4 linked regions of the Homo sapiens genome follow. The protein of the gene in region 4 purifies or fractionates together with the protein of the main gene of each other region. This does not show direct contact. Each region holds a gene or a part of one and is shown on either strand. Other genes may lie near its edges. The genes, in order: RBM12, LIN54, FKBP1A and GSTO2.

Evidence for each region.
Region 1: the proteins of GSTO2 (region 4) and RBM12 purify together in Homo sapiens (affinity purification with mass spectrometry; 2 studies listed by BioGRID and IntAct, with this or other methods). This does not show direct contact.
Region 2: the proteins of GSTO2 (region 4) and LIN54 purify together in Homo sapiens (affinity purification with mass spectrometry; one large-scale study listed by BioGRID and IntAct). This does not show direct contact.
Region 3: the proteins of GSTO2 (region 4) and FKBP1A fractionate together in Homo sapiens (co-fractionation; one large-scale study listed by BioGRID). This does not show direct contact.

Annotation. Positions count from the first base shown.
Region 1 is NC_000020.11:35,647,625-35,651,915, forward strand, and holds the end of RBM12 (RNA-binding protein 12), read right to left. Parts: 3' UTR 1,301-4,291; downstream 1-1,300.
Region 2 is NC_000004.12:82,934,034-82,938,586, reverse strand, and holds part of LIN54 (protein lin-54 homolog), read left to right. Parts: intron 1-82; coding exon 83-174; intron 175-1,288; coding exon 1,289-1,360; intron 1,361-2,205; coding exon 2,206-2,308; intron 2,309-2,468; coding exon 2,469-2,606; intron 2,607-4,553. UniProt on the Homo sapiens protein: Component of the DREAM complex, a multiprotein complex that can both act as a transcription activator or repressor depending on the context. In G0 phase, the complex binds to more than 800 promoters and is required for repression of E2F target genes.
Region 3 is NC_000020.11:1,368,564-1,373,116, forward strand, and holds the end of FKBP1A (peptidyl-prolyl cis-trans isomerase FKBP1A), read right to left. Parts: exon of another isoform or gene 4,515-4,553; intron 3,678-4,514; coding exon 3,549-3,677; coding exon of another isoform or gene 3,513-3,548; exon of another isoform or gene 3,153-3,512; intron 1,510-3,152; coding exon of another isoform or gene 1,466-1,509; 3' UTR 415-1,465; downstream 1-414. UniProt on the Homo sapiens protein: Keeps in an inactive conformation TGFBR1, the TGF-beta type I serine/threonine kinase receptor, preventing TGF-beta receptor activation in absence of ligand.
Region 4 is NC_000010.11:104,282,149-104,286,701, forward strand, and holds part of GSTO2 (glutathione S-transferase omega-2), read left to right. Parts: intron 1-3,786; coding exon of another isoform or gene 3,787-3,819; exon of another isoform or gene 3,820-3,842; intron 3,843-4,553. UniProt on the Homo sapiens protein: Exhibits glutathione-dependent thiol transferase activity. Has high dehydroascorbate reductase activity and may contribute to the recycling of ascorbic acid. Participates in the biotransformation of inorganic arsenic and reduces monomethylarsonic acid (MMA).

The sequences.
Region 1 (4,291 bases), on a different chromosome or scaffold from region 4:
GTAGCAAGCCACCGTGGCTACTCACTGCTAGTTAACGTTGATCCAGAAAAGGAGTCATACTCTAGGATGCTTTTGAGACTCTAACACAAAGCAGCCAAAGCACCAAGAATAAACCCAAGAACAGCATGGTAAAGAATTACCATTTACCAGCTGGGCACGGTGGCTCACGCCTGTAATCCCAGCACTTTGGGAGGCCGAGGTGGGCGGATCATGAGATCAGGAGGTGGGGACTATGCTGGCCAACATGGCAAAACCCCGTCTCTACTAAAAATGAAAAAAAAAAAAAAAAAAATTAGCTGGGCTTGGCGGCACGCACCTATAGTCTCAGCTACTGAGAGGCTGAGGCAGGAGAATCGCTTGAACCCAGGAGGTGGAGGTTGCAGTGAGCCGAGATCGCACCACTGCACTCCAGCCTGGGCAACAGATACAGACTCCATCTCAAAAAAAAAAAAAAATTACCATTTACCTGAGCAGGAGATGAACTTGCTTATGTTGTTGAATAGACAGGGGTTTTCCCAGAAAAGTCACTGTAACATCAGAGAATTGTGCTACTACCAGAGTACACTCTTTCCAGAACATTTCACAAGTCAAAATGATCAGATTCTATACTAAAAAGATAAGACTGAAATAAAGCCATTTTTAATAAAAAAGGAAAGCCATAAGTTTGATTCTACCATACCCTGTAAAAGCTCTACTTTTGGGAGATTAGTGATGATGCACATAGTTGATAAACTATTTCTTGCTGTAAAACACTGGAAAGCAGGTAACAATGAATTACATAACTGATCTCTCCTGAACAAGAAAAGGAGACATATTATCACACAGTCCACCCCTTTCAGATGGTAAAAGCCATTTTGGATATCTGTAGGCAGCTGATTTCACTCAGTGATTTGTCCATTGCTTAGTCAAATCCCGATTATTTAATAATGGCTCAGCTACTACCTGGAATTATATGTCTAGCCCCCTCTAAAACACACTGGGTATCCAAATTCTAATACAAGCTAAACTCTTTCAAGATAAAAAGTTTTCAACATTTAAGGGCTTTGTTTGCCAACACATCATACACATAAAATTCTGAAAAGGTGGATACTATGGACTTGAATCAAGTTTCCTCCCTGCTGTTCCAAGTATCCTCTTCTCTTGACACTTCAGCATTAGCAGGCAAGGATAAGCAACAATTTTTACCTCTCCAAGATTACCAAATCTACCTCTCCAAAGGCACAAAATATTTTCAGGTTTAAAAACAAAACAAAACAAAAACCCTGACAAGATAATATTATAGCTCAGTAAAGTACTTTTGTGCAGTTAAAGCATTAAAAGCATCAGCCTGTTTTATTTTTTGACAAGTTTATTGAACAGTATTCAAGACTTCATCTTTATAAACAAAAACCTCTGCTGAGTGATGCCAAGGCAGTATTTGCTGGCAATGTTGTGGCCATATTGGCAACAAGCCATTTTGTTGTGTTTGGTTTCTAAAGTCTGGACTACTATAGAACTGCCAGTAAAACAATTTAAATGTGGCAATTTTGCAAGGGTGGAAAATAATTTTTAAAGTGACCACTTCCAGAAATTCTTTCCAAAAGATTTGACTAGCAGCAATTTTACATTTTCTTTACTCATTTCCCGAGTGTTCTTAAAATTGATGAGATTTTACACTTGGCCCATACCTGTACACAACCACAGACTCCAGTAAAAGGGAGCTGGAATTTAAGGCTTTCACGCATCCTTGTTTTTATGCAAGGCTGACTATTTCCACCTAAAAATGTAATGTTTGCTTACTTCCATACAGTCCTAGATTTTCATCCAGTGGGTTAAGACTGGCCTTAACTACACTGAATATTACTACCTGAAATTTTAAATAAAGTTTCCTAATCGAATTTTCATTGTTGATGCTTTGACAACTTGGAGTACAAAGCTAGGAACTACATTTCACTTAACACTGTTTCATTTTTTAAAAAGCCACTAATAATAATTGTACATCCAAACTACTGTGTAAACACAGAACACACCTCCAAATTATGCTTGTGAACTAAATGTTTCACTAAAGTTCAGAAAAGTTTACAAATTTGCTTATTTATGACATACATTTGTAGATTTCTCTAATCCTTTAAATCAAAAGAAAAATGAACACCAATAAAAAAAAAATCAGAAGGGAGAGGAAAAAAAATTAAATCTAATGGAAAATATTCTCTTCCATTAATGTCAGAGTCACCAAAAACAGACAATAAAATTTACACATAAAATTGAAAATATCATGATAGTGTTTACAAATGCACACAACTTTGAGCAAAGCTTTACAAATCCTTCATACCATACAAAGCAAATGAGAAAATAATGTCAATTCATTTCTACCCCAAACCTAGTTCTTAGGAGAAAATTCGCAGGAAGAGAGGTATGAGTAGTTTCACAGAATACATTTTCAAGAATTTTTTAAAAACTGAAACTCCAATGCCCAGAACAAGATAAACAGTATCCTTAGCAGTTAGCACTGTTAATAAATCTCAGATACACAAAAATCAAGTTCCAGAGGGCAAAGCATTTAATTACAGTCCACAACGAGCACTGTTGTGATTCATATAAAACATAGTTCTCTCCAATTTCTACACAAACCGCTCTTTTAATTTATTTAATTAGATGAACAATGAAATCGTTTTCCTTTTCAGCATTTATCTAAGATGTAGAAATAACAAAGTAGTTGCAATAAAGTGTATGAAATATTTAATAAGAATGTACGAACATATAACCAAAATAAATTGTGAAAAAAGATAAAAGACTTTCATCTTCAAACAACCCATTTTTCTAAAATGAAAATAGCTTTCCAATGGAGAAAATATCTGTGGCTGAAATACAACTCTCAAGCAGTGCTGAAGTTTTTTGCATTGTCTTTGGAATGAGAAATGATTACTTAACATTAACTTAAATTAAACAGCATATACAAACGTTATATTGCTTTTGAAATTGAGGAGGCAGTATCTAGTGATCGGTCAAAGCAAATCTGTATTCATGAATTATCAAAAGACCCACAACATAGTCACCTCTTGAGTCTAAACAATCCTTCTCTTAAACAAAAATCCTGTACTGTCAATCCTCTAAGATTGTAGTGATAAAAAGCCTTTTCAAATCTTATCAAATGAAACTGTTGCCACTCTTAAATTACACAACCGCTGTATTTCAGTGTTCCACTGACTCACAACACCAAAAAGGCACTGTATATATATATAGTTTAATAGGAAATACTTATTTTAAAAGACTGACCCCTTTGTAACTACGCTGATTTGTAGGAAATGTTGGGGATGTTTCAAACGAAGACAAAGGGGCCATGTAAAAGATAAAATTTGGTTTTCATGATCTCTCATCTATCTCTCCTTCTGTATTGTTTATAATGTGACACATTTTCAGAGCATTGACTAGGGAAAGTAACCATAACTAGAGCCCTGTAAGGCCAAGTTTTTCATCACAAGGAAAGTAACCATAATTAGAGCCTTTTATGACAGTGAGAAAATTTGTTTTTCATATCATCTCACCTATCTCCCCTTCCGTATTGTTTATAATATAATGTGACACATCTTCAGAGCACTGACTAGGGAAATCATAATTAGAGCCTTGTAAGGCAAGTGTTTTCATGACAAGGACACTTACCAACCAGAACTCATGTGGTCCTCCTGCCTTAGTGTCCTGAATACCAAAGAAAAGAGTATGAAAGGGTCAAGAATCTCAATTTTCTCCTCTGGCGGCTGCACTTGTACTCTGTATGAAGACTTTTAGTAAACAGGCTCCTGATCGAACAACTATGCCAAAAAGCCTCCAAATAACAGGACTAACACGTATCAATCTACGAACCAGCATACGGATCTTTTATTCTATACTACTACTGCTAACAAAGATAATTTCAACTTCAGTTTTAAAAACCTAGATATAACACTTTCTTATGAATGGGCCCCTCTTTGTTTAAAGGCCAAAATTTCACATAATCGGGACAGGAGGAAATTGATACTACAATTAGTCCATATGAAAAGGACTTCAAATCAAGTATCTTAAACACATTATTAAAAGTGGTTTCTGGTTTTCGATACCATCCAAACAACATGAACAATTTTTAAACTGACTAACCTAAATCGTGGCGGTCAAACCAAAAAGGCTCTGGTAGATAAAGGACTCCATAGTTTATTTTTATGGCAAAAGTCTTATTCCACACAGTTTTAAGTGTGACATTAGAAATCAAAGTTTGAGGTTATAGCACAAACGAAGTGTGGACTTTTATATTTAGGGAAAAAAACCAACAAAACAGTTC
Region 2 (4,553 bases), on a different chromosome or scaffold from region 4:
TGTATTTCTTACTGATCATCATACCTGACAGTATTGTCCATTTTTGGAAATATGATCTAAAATTAATTTTCTTTACATGTAGCTACAGCAGTCTTCATATGTATCAATAGCAAGCAACTCTACCTTTACTGGAACATCTGGTATCCAGACCCAGGCACGGCTTCCATTCAATGGGTGAGTATTTTGAAAATAGGTACATAAGTTGTTAGATCAGCTTAAATGCAACAGTAAATATATATATTCCAAACTACATCCTCTTTTATTTTTTTCCCCTTAAAGCCATGTGAGCATGCCTCTAAAATACTTGTTGAAATATTTCAAACAGAAAAATTACAGAAATAGTCAATTCCCAAATACTCTATTCAGATTCACCAATTTCACTACACTAGTTTTATTATTCTCTTTCATTCTGAGTATGTTTCCAAAATGATGATGCTAACTATTTTTTATCTTTATTTTTCAAGACAAGGTCTTGCTCTGTTGCCCAGGCTGGAGTGCAGTGCTGTGATCTCAGCTCACTGCAACCTCCCAGGCTCAAGCAATCCTCCTGCCTCAGCCTCCTGAGTAGCTGGAACTCTATGCACATGCCACCATGCTCTCCTAATTTTTAAATTTTTTTGTAGAGATGCGGTCTCACTATATTGCCCAGGCTAATCTCCACCTCCTGGGCTCAAGTGATCCTCCTGGCTCAGTCTCCCAGAGTGCTGGGATTCCAGGCTTAAGCCACTGCACCTGCCCAACTATTTTTAAAATTATGTGAGGTCCTCATTTTTTGTTGATGTTTATTTGTTTATCTATTAATTACTGGCTTTTGCAATATCAGCTTAGAAGCCGTGCTTAATTACCCGGAATCAGTCCACATCCCACTTCCATTTCCTCCTCCACACACTCCTTTTCCTCACTGCTTTTTATAATTGAATCCCAAGAGTTTTGAGGCAATCTCAACTTTTGTTTTCTTAGAAGGGACAGTGTTTGTGGAGTGTTCTTTAGCAGCTATTGATAACTTCTTTTAAAAAAATTATTCCATACTTGTCTCTACCTCTTTCATGTTACAACTTGCCTTTGAACCTAGTGTAAATAGAACAACGTAGCAAACTTTTTATTTTAGATGGACACATTTAACATTGGTTAAAGCTTTATTTCTGGAGGGATTTATAGATTGGAGACTTCTCTAATTTTAAATTAGTTTTAGGTCTAATTTTTTAAATTTTAAATTAGTTGTAGCAACTAAATTAATTTTAGTTACTATTAATTGATTAAATGTATATCTTTTTTTCTATCTGTACAGCATAATCCCATCAGAGTCGGCCAGTCGGCCCCGAAAGCCCTGTAATTGTACAAAATCACTGTGTTTGAAATTGTAAGTGTTTTTGCAACTGTTTGCTTATTTAATGTAATTAGAAATGCACTTAAAAGTAAATGGAGTTAACTAAAAATTTTTAGCAGACCAAAGCTCATAAGTCTAAGTAATTTAAATAAACATACAAATGAATGTTTGAACATATATGGCAGTGTAAAAATATTATTTCATTCATCTAGAAAGAAATATTTAGAGTCCTTACCATACATGAATCACTGGAGTAGGGGTTAGGGACATAGCAGCATGAGACAGACATAGCTTCTGCCCTTAATAATAATGTTTGATCTTATTTATGACTTTTGTATTTGGTCTCCTAAGTGATGATACTCTAGGTAGTTTTAAAAGTCACTGAATGGTTAATTTGCTTATTAGCATTAAAAAGACTTGACATGAAATAGTTAAATGAAAAGCATTGGTCTTATTGGGGCATAGAATCCAAAGTACTATTACTATAACTCAGATGAGCCAGTTCAACTATTAGAATATAGCTAGTGTTTTTCCTTTTTCAGAATTTTGAAATGCCTTACTTTGGGGGCACATAAAATTTATATGTGTGACATATAATTTATATAATTTATATGTGTGACAGCTCTTGTGTGACAGCTGTTATTGGTTGGACTAAGTTTTTAGGCCACATTTCTAGTACTTGGTGATTTAAACTTTGAGCCTTAGTATGTGGTTGACAATATGTGTTGTTAACTCTTTAACTGGGTAGCTGAGTAGATTTCTGAGATGCTTTACCACATATGTAGTATGTGTACAATATATATACAATGTATGCATAATCAGATAATTAGTTTTCCTTAATAATGACTTTTTACCTTATACTGACTTTTACCTTTCAGGTATTGTGATTGCTTTGCAAATGGTGAATTTTGCAACAACTGCAATTGTACTAATTGTTACAACAATTTGGAACATGAAAATGAAAGGCAAAAAGCAATAAAGGTGATTATTTTTTATTTCATTTAACTGACAGAAATATCCAGTTTCATCAGTTTTATAAAACTCAATTGTCTTGCAAAGAAACGTTATCAATTCCTTTTGCAGTGTTTAAATTTCATCTACTGTGATTTAACTCTAACTGATATTTGATCTGTTTTGCTAGGCATGCCTTGACAGAAATCCAGAAGCCTTTAAGCCTAAGATAGGGAAAGGAAAGGAGGGAGAATCTGATCGACGTCATAGCAAAGGGTGTAATTGCAAACGATCAGGATGTCTTAAAAACTACTGTGAATGCTATGAGGTGAGATGCTGGGTGCGGAAAATAATATCTTTTAAAAACAGTTTTAGAAAGGACCTACTACAAAAATTTACTTGAAAATTGGGAAATCACCTTGCTATTGCAATTTGAAAATATGCACAGTTGGTGCAAAGGCCCTTGTTTTAGGAAGGCCTTCGAGCCTCTGTAGCAGGGCTTCGGAGGAATACCTTGGGTTTATTATTACAGCTTGGGGTCTTACTGGGTGATTTACCATAACTTCTTGGTCATTATGCTCAGAAAGTATGCAGATCAGAACACCAATATATTGATTTTCAATAAAAATAATATCAAAGTGGATTGGAAACTCTCCAGCAGTGATTCTCACCTGAGGTGCAGTTCTACTTACTGTTCTTCACAGGCTTCTTAGAAATATATGGCCGGGTGCGGTGGCTCACACCTGTAATCCCAGCACTTTGGGAGGCAGAGGCGGGCAGATCACTTGAGGTCAGGAGTTCGAGACCTGCCTGGTCAACATGGTGAAACCCCGTCTGTACTAAAATACAAAAATTAGCCGGGCATGGTGGCAGGTGCCTGTAATCCCAGCTACTCGGGAGGCTGAGGCACGAGAATCGCTTGAACCCAGGAGGTGGAGATTGCAGTGAGCCGAGATCATGGCACTGCACTCCAGCTTGGGCAACAGAGCAAGACTCTGTCTCAAATATATAAATATATATTATAAATATATAAATATATATATATATATGGATACAAAATAGCCTGCATCCCAAGGTACAGTCTGGAAATTAAAGGATTATCTTGACCAAAATGCTGGTTATGCCCACTCAAAGAGCACACTGCTCTGCGGAAAACCAAAGTATGTTAAGTTTGCTTTGTGAGCATAAAAATAGGAAAGGGGGATCTGGCATTCTGCTGGATGAGGTTACTGGTCACGGTAGGCAATTGTCTCCATTTTCACTGTTTTGTTGTTCCACTGAGCTGGTTATTTTTACTTATGGGTCAGGCGTCTTCTCTGGAAGATGTAGTTGAAACTCTGCTCTGACAAATGCCATATAAATCTTCCCCTTCTTGCTTTAGACACAGTACTATATAGTTTTATTTTAGAAGCTTATGTGTAACAATCTAGTGATTGAGATTAACCCTAGATTACCATAATTGGTTTCTTGGTATGCCTGAAACTCTTTACTGACAGTCTTTTGGGTGGTTGAGTTATTCCTCTTCTTGGCTCTTCTCATACTCTCATATATTTTCATTCTTTCTTATTCTCAGAGAATTAATTAATTAATTAGTTTATTTATTTATTGGCAGAAAGCCTAGCTTTGCACTTGCTGAAGGTTTGCCCTGCCACAGGAGCATGTCCTCCAGTTCAGTGCCCTCTCCCATACAGCATGTGTCATATGAAAGATTTTGTGTATTGCATTCTCTGTGTAATGAATTCTTTCCTAATCTACTTATTTACAAAGTCAAATACTCCTCTCAGGAAGTAAAGTAGAATAGGGAATAGGAGAGTAACATCTTGTGAGTTCTGCAGATGATATGAATGAAAATTGCATAAAGAGACAAGTTTTTTGTTGTTGTTGTTGTTGTTATTTTGTTTTTGAGACGGAGTCTCGCCCTGTCGCCCAGGCTGGAGTGCAGTGGTGCGATCTTGGCTCACTGTAATATCCGTCTCCTGGGTTCAAGCGATTCTCCTGCCTCAGCTTCCCAAGTAGGTGGGATTACAGGCACCTGCCACCATGCCCAGGTAATTTTTGTATTTTTTGTTTTTAGTAGAGACAGGGTTTCACCACGTTGGCCCGGTTGCTCTCAAACTCAAGTGATCCGCCCACCCATCAGCCTCCCAAAATGTTGGGATTACAGGCATGAGCCACCGTCGCAAGTTGATTTTTTAAACTGTCTTAACATCTCAAAATCCAACAAGCCAGTTTTCATCCAGTGTTGGAATCTTTTTTAGTCTTTCTTCTTTTGAAT
Region 3 (4,553 bases), on a different chromosome or scaffold from region 4:
TCTCATTAATTTGCTTGCAGTTGCTTGTAGCACATCTCCAAGTGGACTGTGACTCACTTCTCAAAAATGTGTTGTATCTCCCACTTTTCTGTAACCCAAGAACCCCGAGCATAGTGCTCTACCCAGAACACATATTTAATAAACATTTGGTAACAGGGGAGGGGATGTTCCCTGACTATCCCAGCTTGCCCTTTCAGGCAGCTCCTTTGATGCAAACCTACCCCACATTCCCCCTCCTCTGACCCCCAACCCGTTAATAGCCAGTGAGGAAGGATGTTCACTGCTGCATTCTTCTGCCAAGACACAATCTTGAAACTGCATCCCCACTGCCACCCTCCTTCACCCTGCCCAACCCCATCCCCCTGCACCAAATGGCAGGGGAGGCACCTGAAAATAACCACCATGACACAGAGCTGAGAAAAGCCGGCATAAAGCACTTTTATTGCAATAATAAAACTTGAGACTCATAAATGGTGCTGGGGGAAGGGTGCAGCAACGATTTCTCACCAAATCACTACACAGGACAGCAAAGGGGTGAGAAGGGGCTGAGGGAGGAAAAGCCAGGAAACTGAGATCAGCAGAGGGAGCCAAGCATCAAAAAACAGGAGATGCTGAAGCTGCGATGACCAGCATCATTTTCTTAAGAGAACATTCAAGGATTTGTCATGATGGCTGGGCTTTCACTGGGTGTTAAGTCTACAAACAGCACCTTCAATTGAAACTGTCAATTAAAGTTCTTAAGATTTAGGAAGTGGTGGAGCTTGGAAAGTTATGAGATTACAAAATTCCTGAAAGTCCATTAGAAAAACCACAGGATGAAAAAAAAAAAAGGCCACAAAGAAGGCTTCAGAGGTCCCTGCTGGCCCAGGGACAGATACCTGTAGTGTCCAGCATTGCAGTGAACATGATCTACTTTCAAAGGCAGAGGGTTTAAGGGGAGGGTGGGTGGGAATGGTGGAGGCAAAGGCTCTCCCCATCCCCACCTCAGTTTTAGGTAGGGCTTTTAATTTAACCCAAAGACATCTCTCAACTTGGAGAGTAATTCAGTCCTCAACAGCGCCTCAAATCTGCTATGGCTTTGCAGCGCAGCAGCAAGAATGTTTAATATATAATAGATAAAAATTTCATCCAAAAAATTAAAATAAAATATTCTTGCAAACCCCCCCCCCAACACCAATTCCTATTCTAATGTTAACCTACCACTTGTGCTGTTAATACTTGACCATGTACTTAATTGGAAACCTATATCCAAAAGACTGAAACTGAATCTTCACCCCAAAATGAAAACAAAATAAAATGAATAACTTGAGGTTTATGGCATATAGTTTAGGTAAACACACATACGAGGAGAAAGGGGAAGAGGAAACAGAGGTGTCGGAAGCAAAGCTGAGTGACAGAACACATTCAGTCAGGGCAGATGTCTATACAAAGTGGAGTGGAACATCAGGAAAAGCTCCATATGGATTCATGTGCACATGTCTGGAGGCACCAGATCCCTCCATGGCAGATCTGTTGGGGACAGAAAATCTGTGAGTTTCCAGCAACTCAGTGTTCTTTGTGTGCAGTGGCGACAGCCACGATGCCATCTGCCACGCCAAATCCCTTCCCCAACAGCTGAGCAGTCTGAGACCAAGCCACTTCTGTTCCAGCTGGAGACAGCCAGAAAGACTTGGGCTGGGTCCCAGGTGAAACAAACTTTCTCCTTAAATTGATCTGTGTGTTTTGTTTAATCTAAGGTTAAGTTTGCCTTGCTGAGGACAGCAGGAGGGCTAGCCACCCATGCTGCTGACAATACAGTTCCCCACTATCATTGGGTCTCAAACTGTGCTACATATAGGCATCACCTGGGGGCTTTAAAAAACTCTTAATGCCTGGGTTCCACTCCCATGATTATGATTAACTGGTTTAGGGTTTGACCTGGGCATCAGGAAAGTCTTAAAAATTTCCCAGGTGACTCTCATGTGCAGTCCAGACTGAGAATAAACTGGTCATTCATAATGTTGAGTATACTGGGAAAATATCTCCAGTATTCATTCATTCACTCAACTTAAAACTTTCTGGGTTTGCCCTTGGATTTTCCTTCCAGACTCTTGCAAGAAGCTGAGACATTCTTTGGCAGTGGGTTGGGAGGGTTACTCGGGGTGACTTGTAGCCTTTATCCCTCTCTCCCCTCCCTCTACCTCATCAAGTTTACAGAAAGCCTGTTCCCAACCAGGAAAATAATTCCAAGGCTCCCTCGAGTACAGTTATGTTCAAAAAATGACTCAGCTCTCAAAGAACAGGAAAGGGATTTTGGCCTAGGTGCAGACCTCTGGGCAGACAAAGGCCCTGTAAAGTGCCAGGGATTCCCTCCCAGTAGCAATGACAGGTGAAGAAACCAGTTATCAAACTTAACCAGGCCTGTATTACCAAGGTGTGTGTGGTTCAAACAGAGAGTTTAAAAAGCCCCTCCACTTACAGATGTGCACAACAGGACCAGGTTACAAGTAGCTCTGACTGCCATCACAAATAGGATGGCAGCCATTTGTTGTGGCTTTCAAACAAAAGTGTCCTCACCCAGGCCTTGGCTGTGACCCTCTGGTTCCTATGGCAGGAGGGGAGCAAATAAAAAGGTCTGGGGCCAGTTGGAAGGAAGCCAGTAGCATTCATGTACTTAATGATTCTAACACTTACATGAAAAGTTACGTGCTACTAGGATACTGAGTTTAGTTCCTAAGAAATGAGGGTGGAAGAGGGGAAAATCAACAAACAGGGGCTCTGGTCCTACTTTGCCACTGCCTGGATGTGACCTTGAGTAAGGCCTTTCTCTCTGGCCCTGTTTCCTTACTGTTGCACAATAAAGCTGATGCAGAGGCCCCTAAGATCCCTTCCTAGAACTGTCTGATCTAAGAGCATCCTTTCAACTTCACAAGCATCCTCTGGCTTCATTTTTCCACTTCACTCACTGATAAGCTGGCCTGGGGGCCTCAAGTGTCCTGGGTGTGGACCCTGAGCAGGTGGACCGATGCAGGAATGCCTCCCTCATACCATCTAATAGGCAGTAACCACAAACCACAGTGAAGAGAGAGCCGCAGAAGCTAGGACATGATATTCATATCCAAAGGGCTTTTTTTTTCCCCCTCTAGCTTCTAGAAACACAGGGTAGAACAAAGTCATTCATTAAGAGTCTTATTTCCAAAGAACTAAAATGTTGGCACTACAAATTTGGCCTACATTTCCATAGTCCTCAATTCAGTTTTAATTTATAAACTACATAGAAAAACATTTAAACAGCTGCCATCTCCATGAGTTGAACTGGGAACATACACATGCCAATTCCTTTCCTTAGGGTGACCAATTTTTACATTCAAAGCATACACTAATAACACTGAAAGGATACTCAATACAGAAAGAATGCAGGGGGAAAAATAGCCTTGTGGTGTTTTTTGTTCTCTCTGCTACCCATCAAACGCTGGGCATAACATGGGAGGAGCAAAGGCAGTGAAGGGCCCTTCAGTATTCCATTTCCTTACCCAAGAACAGGGAGCTAAGGGAGGAGGCCATTCCTGTCATTCCAGTTTTAGAAGCTCCACATCGAAGACGAGAGTGGCATGTGGTGGGATGATGCCTGGGTGCCCAGTGGCACCATAGGCATAATCTGGAGATATAGTCAGTTTGGCTCTCTGACCCACACTCATCTGTGAAAAGAACAAGGAAGACAGACTCAGCTGGACACATGCCCCAACTGTCTCTGTAAGAAAAAGAGCTGTTTACCTAGGTGTTCCTTGGCCAGGATGGTATTGACTTTCCAGTGACTTTGCAGCTGCCCAGGCATCACCACCTCCTTGTGCAGGACTTGGAGGTTGGCAGTCATATTCCATCACCCCTGCATCTCACTCCAAGAAGCCCAATGGCAGTTCAAAACCCCTCCTGACTCTCAGAACGGTCAGGCCCTCAACCTTTCTACGCAAGTCTTAATGACTAATGCTAGGCAGGTAACATTCCAGATGTCTCACCACCTAGTCCCCTTCAGTGATCTGTCACTTAAAGGACATGTTAAGTGCCATCTATGCTCTTCTTGAAAAAGGAATACTCAACTTTGCTTTAAAAAAATATATACACAGGAAGTAATACTTGAGGGTAGTCTATTTTTTCTGTATTTTTTCTATTTATACTCTTTTACCCATATAGGAAAACTTCAAAAAAGACAATATGATTTTCTGGGCTACAAAATAGCATTTACTGAATACCATTTGTGAAAATATTGATATGCCTACAACAGAAAACATCTTTGGAAGGACATACCAGACATTTGCTGTGAGGAGAACAGTATGGATAGTGAGTGACCAGTAAGGAGAGATTTCTACTTTAAAAAATATATTTGTGTATATTTTCAGTTTCAAATTAAATACACAAATAAGTATAAAATATCTACTTTCTGAACAGTGAGCAGGTTCTCTGCAGTATTTCCATCCTTTGACTTATCTCTGCTTTTGGTCTCCATGTGTATGTTCCCGACTTTCCAACTCCACCAGACAGAGGATGAATAAAGAGGAAGCTCCAGGCTGTGAAGC
Region 4 (4,553 bases):
CCAGGAGGGGGAGGTTGCTGTGAGCCAAGACTGCGCCACTGCACTCCAGCCTGGGCAACAGAGTGAGACTCTGTTTCAAAAAAAAAAAAAAAAAAGAAAAGAAAAGAAAAAGTATTCAGCCCAGCTGAGCACAGTGGCTCATGTCTGTAATCCCAGCACTTTGAGAAGCCAAGACGGTAGGATCGCTTGAGCCCAGAAGTTTGAGAACACCCTGGTCAACATGGCAAACCTCCATCTCTTTAAAAAATACAAAATGTTAGCTTGGCATGGTGGCTTATGCCTGTAGTCCTAGGTACTTGGGAGGCTGAGATGAGAGGATCACTGGAGCCTAGGAGGTTGAAGCTGCAGTGAGCTATAATTGCACCACTGCACTCCAGCCTGGACAACACAGTGAAACCCTATCTCAAAAAAAAAAAAAAAGAAGAAGAAGAAGTTCAGCCCAGCAAGAATGTAGAGGATGGATTAGAGTGTCCAAGAGGAGGGACTGGGAAGGGACAAAGAGGACCCCACTAACGAGGGTTGGAGAGGGAGGTTTAATTAGAGAGATTTTGAGGAACTAAGATGAGATGAAATCTGAGGAAGGAGTAGGAGTTATGGAGGATGGTTTCCAAGTTTGTGGCCGGTAAATGTGATGCTTTTCACTAAGAGTTTGAGGGAAGACACATTTTGTCAAATTTGTGGTGTTGATGGGATATTCATATGCGGGCAGAGCTTAGAAGAACAATGTATGGTCTCTACTGGACCTTTGGAATGGTTTTATGGGCTAGGAGCTTTCACCAGAGAGTTTAGGAATGTCATTAGTGGGGTGGTGATAAATGTTTAAGAATCAATTTTCTCTTAAAAGAGAAAGAAAAAGAAAAAGCACGGATTTATAGCATTTGCTGATTTGGGTGGTGTAAACACTTCCGTCAAGGTTAATTTTGAGCTACCAATGTGCTATTTCTAAACTCAAGAGCTGGCAAAAGATGTGGGCAGCTCCAGCATGTCACTGAATAAGAAATTTCACTTTATCTTCAATAACTGAGCCCCAGGAACACTGTTGTTAACCAGCCTCTATATAGGTAGCTTTCACTAACCAGCCTCGGTGTAGGTAGCTTTCACTGATGCTATTTAAGGACCACTGAGTACTCCACATTGTCCTAACAGGTTTGAATGTGGTTTTGTCCCATAGAATGTTAGCAAGAATTGTAGCTATGGCTGGGCGTGGTGGCTCACACTTGTAATCCAGGCACTTTGGGAGGCCAAGGAGGGAGGATCACCTGAGGCCAGGAGTTCAAGACCAGCCTGGGCAACACAGTGAGACTATGTTTCTACTAAAAATTAAAACATGAACTGGTCATGGCAGTGCGGGTCTGTAGTCCCACCTTCTCTGGAGGCTGAGGCGGGAGCATCTTTTGAACCCAGGAGTTTGAGCTTGCAATGAGCTATGATCGTGCCACTGTACTCCAGCCTGGGTGACACAGCAAGACTCTGTCTCAAAAACAAATAAACAAAGAATTATAACTACAATGTAGGAAATATTGAAATCTGAAAACATGACCAATGTACTTGAATTATGCGATCTGTTCCTTTAAATGCCAAAATATTTATTCCAGGAGATTCTAGTGAAATTGAAATTTATCAGAATAATTCTAATGGAGAGGATCCCCTGATTTATGTAACTCTTTCACATGGTTTTGCACAATCAGGATTTTTTGTGAGCTAAAAATATATTAAATACTCATTGTCTTTCTGAGTGATAAGCAAGCCAAGATTTCATGCATAATCTTCTGCTATGTTATCCTGAAACAGAAGGCTCAGTTAACCTTTTGTGGCCTTAAACTCTGACACTTTCTTCTTTTGAAATAACTGCCTTGTCTAACTTTTTAAGTTTTTTTTTTTTTTTGGCTTGTTTTTTTGTTTGCTTGTTAGTTTTTTAAATCTAGTTTCAGGTGGGTTCAGTGGCTCATGCCTGCAATCCCAGCACTTTGGGAGGCCGAGGCGGGCAGATCATTTTAATCCAGGAGTCCGAGACAAGACTGTACAACATGGCAAAACCTTATCTCTACAAAAAATACAAAAATTAGTTGGATGTGGTGATGCATACCCGTGGTCCCTGCTACTTGGGAGGCTGAGGTGGGAGGATCACTTGAGTCCAGGAGGTCAAGGCTGCAGTGAGCTATGATCATGCCACTGTACTCCAGCCTGGGTGACAGAGTGAGACTTTGTCTCCAAGAAAAAAAAAATTAAGTTCCATCAAAATCAAAGATTTATTGTGCTTGTTATATAACCACATTTTTCTCTAATATCTTTTACAATTCTTTGAGATATATTACTGCCACTTTTATTATCAAACTAGCAGCCTGCTCACTGGCTTTCCTGTTCTGAACATTGGCATGAGTTTTAAAACTATGACACTTGTCTTGTCTTGCTGCACTTTATGTCTTCAAGCAGATTTTCTAGCCCTTACTGAATCATTACTCTAAGCAGCACACATTTTTTAGTTTTATTCTTTTTCAGGTATTGACTTTCCCATTTCAGAATGGGACTTGAGCCAGGCTTCATTTGATCTTTGTGGATTTGAATGTGGCAGGACCTCTTGGTGTCACTTTTTATCTGTGCCTTCCAAAAATATTTTCATTATGGAAGTAGTCAAATCAAGTCCAAGTGCAGTGAAAGGTGGATTTGGTCAGATTTCCTTGAGGCTTTGGAGTTTTGCTTTAAATCTAGAAAGTGTTCGTGGCTTCTGAATTGGTTCTGCACTCTGACTATTGCTTGGTCCTTTCTTCGTCATCATCAGAGCTCCATAAAAGAGAGCGGGGAGGGGATAACATAAATAATGCTGAAATAGCCCTGAGGGATGAGACATGGCCCAGCAACTGAAGCCTTCGTCTGCCCGTGGCCACAGGGCACTTTATGGTTTTGCTTCTTGTCATTCAACCACCTGCCTTGGGGTGCTTCACTTTGCATTTCCACGCAGAGTTTCCCGCATTGCCAAACTTGATCATGTGCCTTATGTGTAGCAGTTTGCATGAGGTGGAATTTGCATAAATTATGTGTGCATCACCCAGGAGCATCTGTAGTTAAATACTTTATTGATTCTAAATTTTGCCCATAATCTTAATTTTTTAATTATTTTATTTTCTTTTCCTCTTTTAGAGATTGGGGTCTCTCTCTATTGCCCAGGTTGGAGTGCAGTGGCACAGTCATGGCTCACTGTCGTCTTGAGCTCCTGGGCTCAAGCAGTACTTCCACCTCAGCCTCCCGAGTAGCTGGGATTACAGGCTGAAGCCACCGAGCCTGCCTCCGTTATCTTAATTATTATTATAATTATTTTTTTGAGTCAGGGTCGCACTCTGTCACCCACATTGGAGTGCAGTGACACAATCACGGCTCACTGCAGCCTCAGCCTCCTGGGCTCAAGTGATTCTCTCACCTCAACCTCCTGAGTAGCTGGGACCACAGGTTCAGGCCACCATGCCCAACTGTTTTGTTTTTGTTTTTATTTGTTTTAATTTTTTGTGGAGACGAGGTCTCACTATGTTGCTCAGGCTGGTCTTGAACTCCTAGGCTCAAGTGATTCTCCCACTTCAGCCTCCCAAAGTGCTATGATTACAGGCATGAGCCACTGCACCTGGTAATCTTAATTTTTAAACTGTTCTTTCTTCTCATCAAAAAAGACATTTATTCAAGTTAGATTATATTGTCTTGGTTTAGTTTTGCTTTTGCTCTTTCTTAATTTTTATTAATTTCCAGTGATGAAATTATTTATATATTGTTTAATTGTTTCTCCTTTGATATCACCAGGATAGGAAGAAAAGAAAGTTTATACCTGGTTAATTCGTCACTGAAAACAATTTTCTGTATCCTTTTATATATAGTAGACTACAAGCTAAATTTTTTATCATCTAAGTTAACATGTCTATAAACTAAATTCATTATTACTAGCTATTTTTAATAAGTTATTGAGATATAATTCATATGCCACAAAATTCACCCTTTTCCAGTGTACAATTCACTGGCTTTTAGTATATTAAGTGAGTTGTGCAACTATCACCAGTATTTAATTTCAGAGCGTTTTTTTTATCATCCCCCAGAAAAACTGCTCACTTGTAAGCTGTCATTTTCCATTTCTTCTCAATCCCTGTGGCTGTACGCAGCCACTGATCTGCTTTCTGTCTCTATGGATTGACTTATTCTAGACACTTCATATAAGTGGAATCATACAACATGTAGCATTTCATGAGCTATTTTCACATACCATAATGTTCTTAAGGTTCATCCTTCATTCTTTTTTATGGCTAAATAATATTCCATGTGTGAATACGCACATTTTGTTTATCCACATCTGGGAAGGTTCCACTCTTGGAACTAATATGGATAATGTTGCTGTGAACACCATGCAGGTTTTTGCATGAATATACGTTGTTATTTCTCTTGGATTTGCTAGCTGATTTAGCATGTTTACTAACATGCCATTTTAGTTGTAACCACCATTCTTTCACACTTGGGAACTGATTATCCCTGACTCAGGATGCCTCGTTAAGTGTATTAGTGCTGTTGCTAGTTGGGTT